2 linked regions of the Homo sapiens genome follow. The protein of the gene in region 1 purifies or fractionates together with the protein of each later gene. This does not show direct contact. Each region holds a gene or a part of one and is shown on either strand. Other genes may lie near its edges.

Region 1 (3,500 bases):
GACATAGGGTCTAGGGGCTCTTTCTCCTGAGGCAGAACATCAAGAGTTCTTTCTGCCTATGTCCCTTTCAGAACACTGAGTCAAATACCCTTGGGCCTCGGCTCACTTAGGGGTCATTTCTAGGAGGCAGCACTCCACATTGAGGACAGTTCTGGGCCAGGTGGGTGGGTATCTGGGTAAACCAACAGGAATTAGTTCTCACATATAGATGATGTGTAATTTAATGCAGGCGTAAAAGGGTTAAGATCTTATTTCTGATCTTATTTCTGCCCTCCTGTACTGTCACCGAGGTGCCATTTAATTCATTAGTGAAGACTCTAACAGCTTATTCCTGAGTCACCTACGGAGAACAGAATGTGGCTCAAATCCGCTGCTTGCTTTCAGGTTCTTTACACTAATCTAGGCTTTAGATGAAACTCCTAAACCCTTTCTTTGCAAGACTGGCCAGCTAGGAAAATGATTTGAGTTTCTTCGGTTCTTCGAGGATTTGGGCCAGTATTACAGAGTATTGGAAGATGTTACCAGTTTAAATGTGAATAAAGGCACTTTCAAAACAATGGCTAATAATCCAAATAACAGACTGAATGTGCTTGGCTATGTGACTTTGGGTAAATAACTTCACCTTTCTGGGCCTCAGTTTTGTCATCTATAACATGAGAAGACAGATTATCTGTAAGGGCACTATCAGCTCTGACATTCTACAATTATGTGATAAGCCTTCAGTTCCCTCCAATGGCAGTGAGAGTGGCTTGTCAGTCCCCCTCGTTTCTTACGGAGACTTTTACGGTTGAATTGTCAATTCCTCACGTCATTATTTCAGGTTGGCTATGTATGTAAAGCTCCCAAAATCAGCTACCGAGGATAGGAGTAAAGAAAACAGTCAGTTTGGCCTCCCTGCTTATGCTTGTATGAAAAAAGTGACAGCTCCAAAGTTTCATATTCTTAAAAGGCAGATCTTCTCAGGCATGTCAGCCAGGGCCCCAGGGATCTCCTCCTTACATGCAACTAAGGAGGCTCCTTGTCTCTACTGCAGCAGGTGTGGAACCCTAGTCAACACCACCTATACCTAGGATTACGTACAATGAGTAGATACAAAGTCCTCCAGCTACCCAATCCTCCCCCAATGACGGATCCCCTTTCCAATACGCTTTCCCCCAAATTTCTCACCCTAAAACAAAATTCGAGACTTTGAAAAAACTCAATAGGACAATTATAGAATAGCTCCAGATTAGATTCATATTTTCTTAGCTAATGTTAGTAGGCTTTCTTTCCGGGCCACAGTCTGGCTGCACCTAAGCAACCTCAAGTTTGAATTTGGAGTCTTTGAATCAGGTCTTGATGGGGTCTTAGAAGTCATCAGATCCAATTCTCAATCCACAACTTCAGTCTTCTCTCCACCTCCTGACTAAGTGGTCATCCAATCTCTGTTTGAACATCTCTAGTGACAAGGAACTCATTATCTCTGGAGGCAGGTAGCACTAATCTGTCATTTTGGGGGAAAGATGGTATTCAGGGCTCAAGTGAGGGTAAGCAGAGGTATTATTTTGAATAGTATAATTTCATATTAAAACTTACAACCCACCACACCTCTGCTAGATGTTCAGTTCCATGATTATTTGCCCACCAATGCCTGCGATGCCTTTGAGAGAGCCAAAGCATTTCTATTTCAAGTTAAAGGGCAACCTGTCCATACCTGCCACATGGAACTCCCACTAAGAGAGAAATAACCCATTCTGGATTTTCTGAAAGTCCACTTTAAAAAGTATTTCAGTTGAGGTGGGGAGTGAAGCAAGAAAAAAAAAAGGCTCTGGGGAGTGTGGTTGGGCGAAAGTTCACGGAAAGGCTAGGCTGGGCTCATGAAACACGAGCTTTGCTGACTTCATGTTTTCATCTTGGCCAGGCCTCAACACCAATGCAACAACTTAGCCTAAAAGTATCTCAACCTTGATCACCACACTCTACTTTTTGAAAAGACACTAAATAGTCATTTGTTTACTTGTGATCTCACAAACATTTTCCTGTCACCACATCTTCATAGTGCCGCGCTTCAGCTCAAATGGAAAGTTGAAGCTCTGGGGCCCATGTGAGTGTTCTGAGGCTCAGGTTCCCCTGGAGGCTCTATGAACTACGCCCTTAAATCTGGCAACTGAGCTGGGCCTACAGCCAGCACTCAACAGTGACAGCACAAATTCCTTCTGGAGGAGGAAATAAAAGGAAGGGTCCTATAGACAACTGATTCCAGGAGTGGGAAGGAGCACAGGACTTTGATTATCATAAGATGTGAAAATACTACTGTCTTCTTCCCTTGTGTGCAGAGGATAGACAGATGGAATTAGCTAAGCCCAGCCTATGAATGCCATCTCACAGTTTCCACTCTTGGTTTAAACCTCAGCTTCTTTGGGTGACCTCATAATGACCAGTTAAGCCCTCCAGGCCTTTTGTTCAGTCTCTTTAAAATGGCAGCAACAGCCTTTATCATCTTCCAACCTGTGTTGATGGAAGTTCCTGTTAGCTTCTTTAAATACCTCTAGACTTCCTTCAGTTTATAAGTGAAAAGAAACCTTTTAAGAAGTGTCGCACTTGCCTTTGAACATCAACACCATTGGGAGATGGCCTGTGTTTCCGAAATGCTGATTATTCTAAGTAAATACAGTGCAACTATCAATAAGAGAATCTCTTCAGCCCATTGAAAGGGATAGCAAAATTAAAAATGTCTGAGGGTCTTTTCATAGTCTGGCATTTCTCCCCAAGGTCAAACTTACTATTATCTTTTCCTACAGGATTTCAGACCAAATTTATTCTAATAGATACACACCATGCTTTATGTTTAATAATATTCCATATACCAGTTCCCAGGGTAGAATCATCTCCCCATTCGGCATTATTTGTCAATATCTGTCAAAGCCAAGGAGGTTGAGGTCATAGGAAGGGTCAGGATCACAGCCTCTGGTCTGGAGAGAGCACTGGAATGGAGATAATAAGGCCTGGATTTTACTTCCAGATTCTCCCCTGGGCTTTCTGGGTTGTTGGCTCATCTGTCAGATCCATGGACTCCCAATTGGCATGATGGAATTAATGACAGGATCTGAGTCTATATGATAATCCTCACCAGAAACAGACAACAGAGTAATGACAGATGCAAAACGAATGATAATTTTAAAACCCCACAGCAGAGCCCCTGTCAAAATGACCTCTTGCAATGCTTCTTATTTTAGGATATAATGTTAAACAAAGAGGAGACGAAGAAAGAAAACAGCTTTGAAATGCAAAAAGGTAGGTTTGCTATTTGCTAATTTCTATGAATGCCTAAAAACTAAAAGGAAGCTTTAGGCTGATCATATTGAACAACCCAGTGTTGTTGCATCAGGGAACTTTTAGCCCTGGAAATAAAACAGGAACACAATTGTCAAATTGACACCTTCTCTGGTCCCTGTGATTTGGAAAGACTTTGTACATATATATTTATGAAAAAAGGATGTGTTCCTTTAATGCCGATGATA
Region 2 (4,223 bases), on another chromosome or scaffold:
TCAAATGCAGGCTGTCTGAGCCTCCTCTCCTGATGGCAGGTCATGCTATTAAGGGTCTCCCAGAAGAAAGGTTCTGGAACTCTGAGAAACAGAAGCTCTTCTAACAGAACTTTTTCTTGCTATAAGCTTTCAATACCACCAATCACCAGTGCACCTTCTTCTCATGCCAAAATACGGCCCCTCCTTTGTAGGGTGTAAAACGACACTGATGTCACTCTCTCTCACCAAGGTCTGGCCATCTCTGTGAAGCTCTCCTCACAGGCACCCTGCAGATTCATCAATAAACTTCAACAGGTTAGCGCCAGTAGGCCAATAAGATGCACACTTATATTCTAGAACCTGTGAAAGAAGTAATAGCCAGAAACTGGAAAATAACAGTCAAACTCTTAAAAAAATGCCTCTCAGAACACAGTCACTTACACCTTTTCCTCTGGTAGTTCTCTTCAGCACCAAGTTTCCTGGAAGAACAAGCTACTCCCCAGTTTTCTTAAAGAATTGTCTGATTGTATTAAGTAAGTGGCTTCTGGTAAAATAATGGTAAGAGAAAAGCTCTGGCATTCTCTTGATCACTCATCTTCTCTGCCTTCCTCCCTAGCAACATCTCCTGGCCTCAGCCTGTGGGCTTCAGCAACACCAAACTCCATGTTGCTCTCTGACAAGCCCGGCCGTCTCCAGTTCTTGGGCTTTATTTCCTCGGGGGCCCTCTGCTGAAATTCCCTTCCCCTTGCTGTATTAGCACCTCCTACCCGCCTTCAACATGCAGGCACTGCCTCCTCTAAGGAGCCATCTGTACTTACGTAGCTGTGAGCATAGGATGGGGCATACAGCAGGCACTTAACAAATACTTGTGGAATGGAAAGAAACTAAGATAGGATCAAAAATACAAATCAAGATGTGAGAGAAAGACGATCAAAAGCCCTCACGAGGGGGCTGGGCGTGATGGCTCACACCTGTAATCTCAACACTTTGGGAGGCTAAGGCGGGTGGATCACTTGAGGGTGGGAGTTTGAGATCAGCCAGAGCAACATGGAGAAACCTCGTCTCTACTAAAAATACAAAAAATTAGCCAGGCATGGTGATATATGCCTGTAATCCCAGCTACTCGGGAGGCTGAGGCAGGAGAATTGCTTGAACCTCGGAGGTAGAAGTTGTGGTGAGCTGAGATCATGCCATTGTACTCCAGCCTGGGCAACAGGAGTGAAACTCTGTCTCAAAAAAAACAAAAAACAAAAAAGAACACCACGGGAAAATCAAGTGTGAAGCAAGAGCTCAACTCTTAACAGGGGCAATGTTTGGAGTTTTGTTACTGGAAAAGATAGAGACCTTACCAGGTCCAAAGTTTGTAGACACAGGAATTACGAAATGGAGAAGGGGGAGAAGTGAGCTAGTGGCAGCATAAAAAGACCAGCAGATGCCCCACAGCACTGCTCTTCCAGAGGCAAGACCAACCAAGATGAGGTGGGTCCACAGCTTTCCCTCCTGCCTTTCCTCTGGTTCTTTATTTCAGTCTTTTTTGCATACATTGGTACAGATGCAGAAATAGAACAAAGAAACAGGGCAAATGGGCTAAATTATAGTGAACCAAAGGGCTTAGTGTGTTAAATCTTCTCCTTTTCTGCATCCATAGAAGACAGTGCTGCTGTCTTTCCCAGGAGATAAGATTTACTCTCAGGAGTGTCTTTTTCCTTGAGGTTACGTTTTTGTCTTTGTAGGGTATGTCATCAGCTCCCGTGGTAGGCTTCCTGGCATTCGGAATATATTTACTAGCAGATATTTTCCTCTTTAAAAATGTATAATAAGAAAGACTAATAGTAACACATTTGAATGACACAATTAATTGACTAGTACTTGGGATACACACTAGTACCTGGGATACATCTAATTAAGACACTTAGATCTTAAAAAATAAAAAGACTTTTTGAAATGTTGAAATAATAAGACTAGAAACTTTTTTTTTTGTGAGACAGAGTCTCACTCTGTCACCAGGATGGAGTGAGTGGCGCGATCTCAGCTCATCGCAACCTCCCCCTCCCCGGTTCAAGCAATTCTCCTGCCTCAGCCTCCCAAGTAGCTAGGACTACAGGCGTGTGCCACCACGCCCAGCTAATTTTTGTATTTTTAGTAGCGATGTGGTTCACCATGTTGGCCCGGATGATCTCGATCTCTTGACCTCGTGATCCACCTGTCTCGGCCTCCCAAAGTGTTGGGATTACAGGTGTGAGCCACCGCACCCTGCCTAGAAACTATTTTAATAGAAGCAAATAGTGCCTGAATGGTGGGCGTCTGTTAGCGAGATGGTGAACTGGCAGATGGCGCCTGTGTGTCAATGCCCATGGCCACCGTCCTGCTTTCAGACACCAGTTCTCTTCCAGGTAACCTTCTGGCATTTTGGGGTTTGAGATACCATTTCCTAAAGGTGAATTATCACAAAATACTAGAAATAACCACATAAGTGTTTAAAATTATTGTTAAATACAGTAAGAAATTCTTCTTCAAAAGTTTAGCCTGCTTAAGTTTCCTTGTCCTTTGTTTCCTGCTTTCAAGGCCAGACTTCCTTACTCTCTGTGTTTCCCCTACCCTGGTAAACAACCTTCCTGCCAGTCCTTACCCATACAGCCCACATTCCACATCTGCTACCCACTCTGTGATTTACCTCTCCCGTCGCAATAGCCTCTCCCACCAAAACTGATCTTCCCGCCTTCCCACCAGTGCAACCACATTCCTGCACTTTGCAAGTTAGCCAACCGGGTTCGGATTGTGCAGTCCAACTCCAGCCAATGGAGTCAGGACACAGTAGCAGGGACAAGCTGCGTTAGACATAAAAACCTCTGCTTTCCTTTGTTTAGGGTGCTCTCGTGGCAACCAGACTTACCAGGAGCTCTATTCTGCAAAAGTAAATTTGCCTTGCTGAGAGACCCTTTGTCCTTTGGCTCAGTGTTGGTTCTTCTTTGCAGCACCGAGCATTTGTTTCCAACAAATTTGGTGGCCCATACAGGGAAAACATTGTCCTCCGGGAAAGGGTCTTTGATCACCTCTTGTGAGGAGACACATCCCACTGCCTTGTTGCAGTGGCCTCATGAGTAAGGAATCGAGACCCACCTGGTCTGATGAATAACCCCAGACTCTCAACAACGTGGGGAGAAAAAGACTTGCAACACTATGGTGGCCAGGTAACTCTGTGCGCAGACCAAGGTAAGAAATGTCGCAGGAGTGACAAAGTACTTCCTTGGTGGTCACTATATTCTGGTGGCTGAAAGTTCATGAATGGTAACAAGTGCTACTGCTGTGTGGAGTGAATGAGTCCAATCTGTGGGTCTATGGTTACCTCATACGGCTTAGCCTTCTCTGAAGGATCCTGATGTTGGGGTTTATATAGTCCTCCCAATGCTAAGCGGGACTTAAAATATTCCTAGGAGGAAAGTGGCCAGAGTGGATGAAGCAAAAGGAGAAGAGTGTGAAGAACCTCCAGGAGGTGGGGCTAAAAGATAGGCAAGAAATCTCTAATACGAGGGATTGAGCCACAGAAAGCTCCAGACAGATAAAAAAGAAATTCCTAATATGAGGAACTGAGCCACAGCAAGCCTCCAGCAGGCAACAAATCCCTAATATGAGGGATTGAGCCTAGCTAAGACCCAATATGGGAAATACCCCAAGAAAGACAGAGAATAAGAAGGATGAAAATAGTAACAAGGATATACCCCTTGATAGTCCCCTAGGTTTCATGTTAAAATACTGGAAAGATAATGAGAGGACTAAGCATAAGAAGAAGGAGCAAATGATAAAATATTGCTGTTTCATTTGGACCCAAGGTCCCATCCTCAAACCCTCAATCTTCTGGCCAAAGTATGGGTCGAATGAGGGTGTAATGAGTCAACTCCTAATCCAATATGTTAATGATAAAAGTCTGGTTTCTCAAGAAGAACTAGACTATGCTCTTTGTTGGAAGCAGGGACCTGTCCTCCTCTTTCCCTTAAAGACAACTAGGGAAGAATCCGATCCAGCATCTCAAATTGAGAAGTCAGACAAGCCGACTCCCACACCTAAAGTCAGCACATGGGATCCCCTAGACTGTCTTCCTTTGCTTACTGCCCCAATCCTAACCCCCCTACTCCTCAGGCAGCTGCTGCTGCCCCAGATCCCATCCCAGATTCTTCCCCAACTCATGATGTTCCTCCCGCTTACAACCCTGACTCTCAGGGGCAGTCGTCCCAAGAGCCTGTTCA

The links. Proteins that work in one complex are often made in the same cells at the same time.
Region 2: the proteins of CD40LG (region 1) and HPR purify together in Homo sapiens (affinity purification with western blotting, with the first as the bait; one study listed by BioGRID). This does not show direct contact.

What each region holds. Positions count from the first base shown.
Region 1 is NC_000023.11:136,651,158-136,654,657, forward strand, and holds part of CD40LG (CD40 ligand), read left to right. Parts: intron 1-3,215; coding exon 3,216-3,273; intron 3,274-3,500. UniProt on the Homo sapiens protein: Cytokine that acts as a ligand to CD40/TNFRSF5. Costimulates T-cell proliferation and cytokine production.
Region 2 is NC_000016.10:72,061,803-72,066,025, forward strand, and holds the start of HPR (haptoglobin-related protein isoform 1 precursor), read left to right. Parts: upstream 1-1,423; 5' UTR 1,424-1,453; coding exon 1,454-1,458; intron 1,459-2,954; exon of another isoform or gene 2,955-3,192; intron 3,193-4,223. UniProt on the Homo sapiens protein: Primate-specific plasma protein associated with apolipoprotein L-I (apoL-I)-containing high-density lipoprotein (HDL).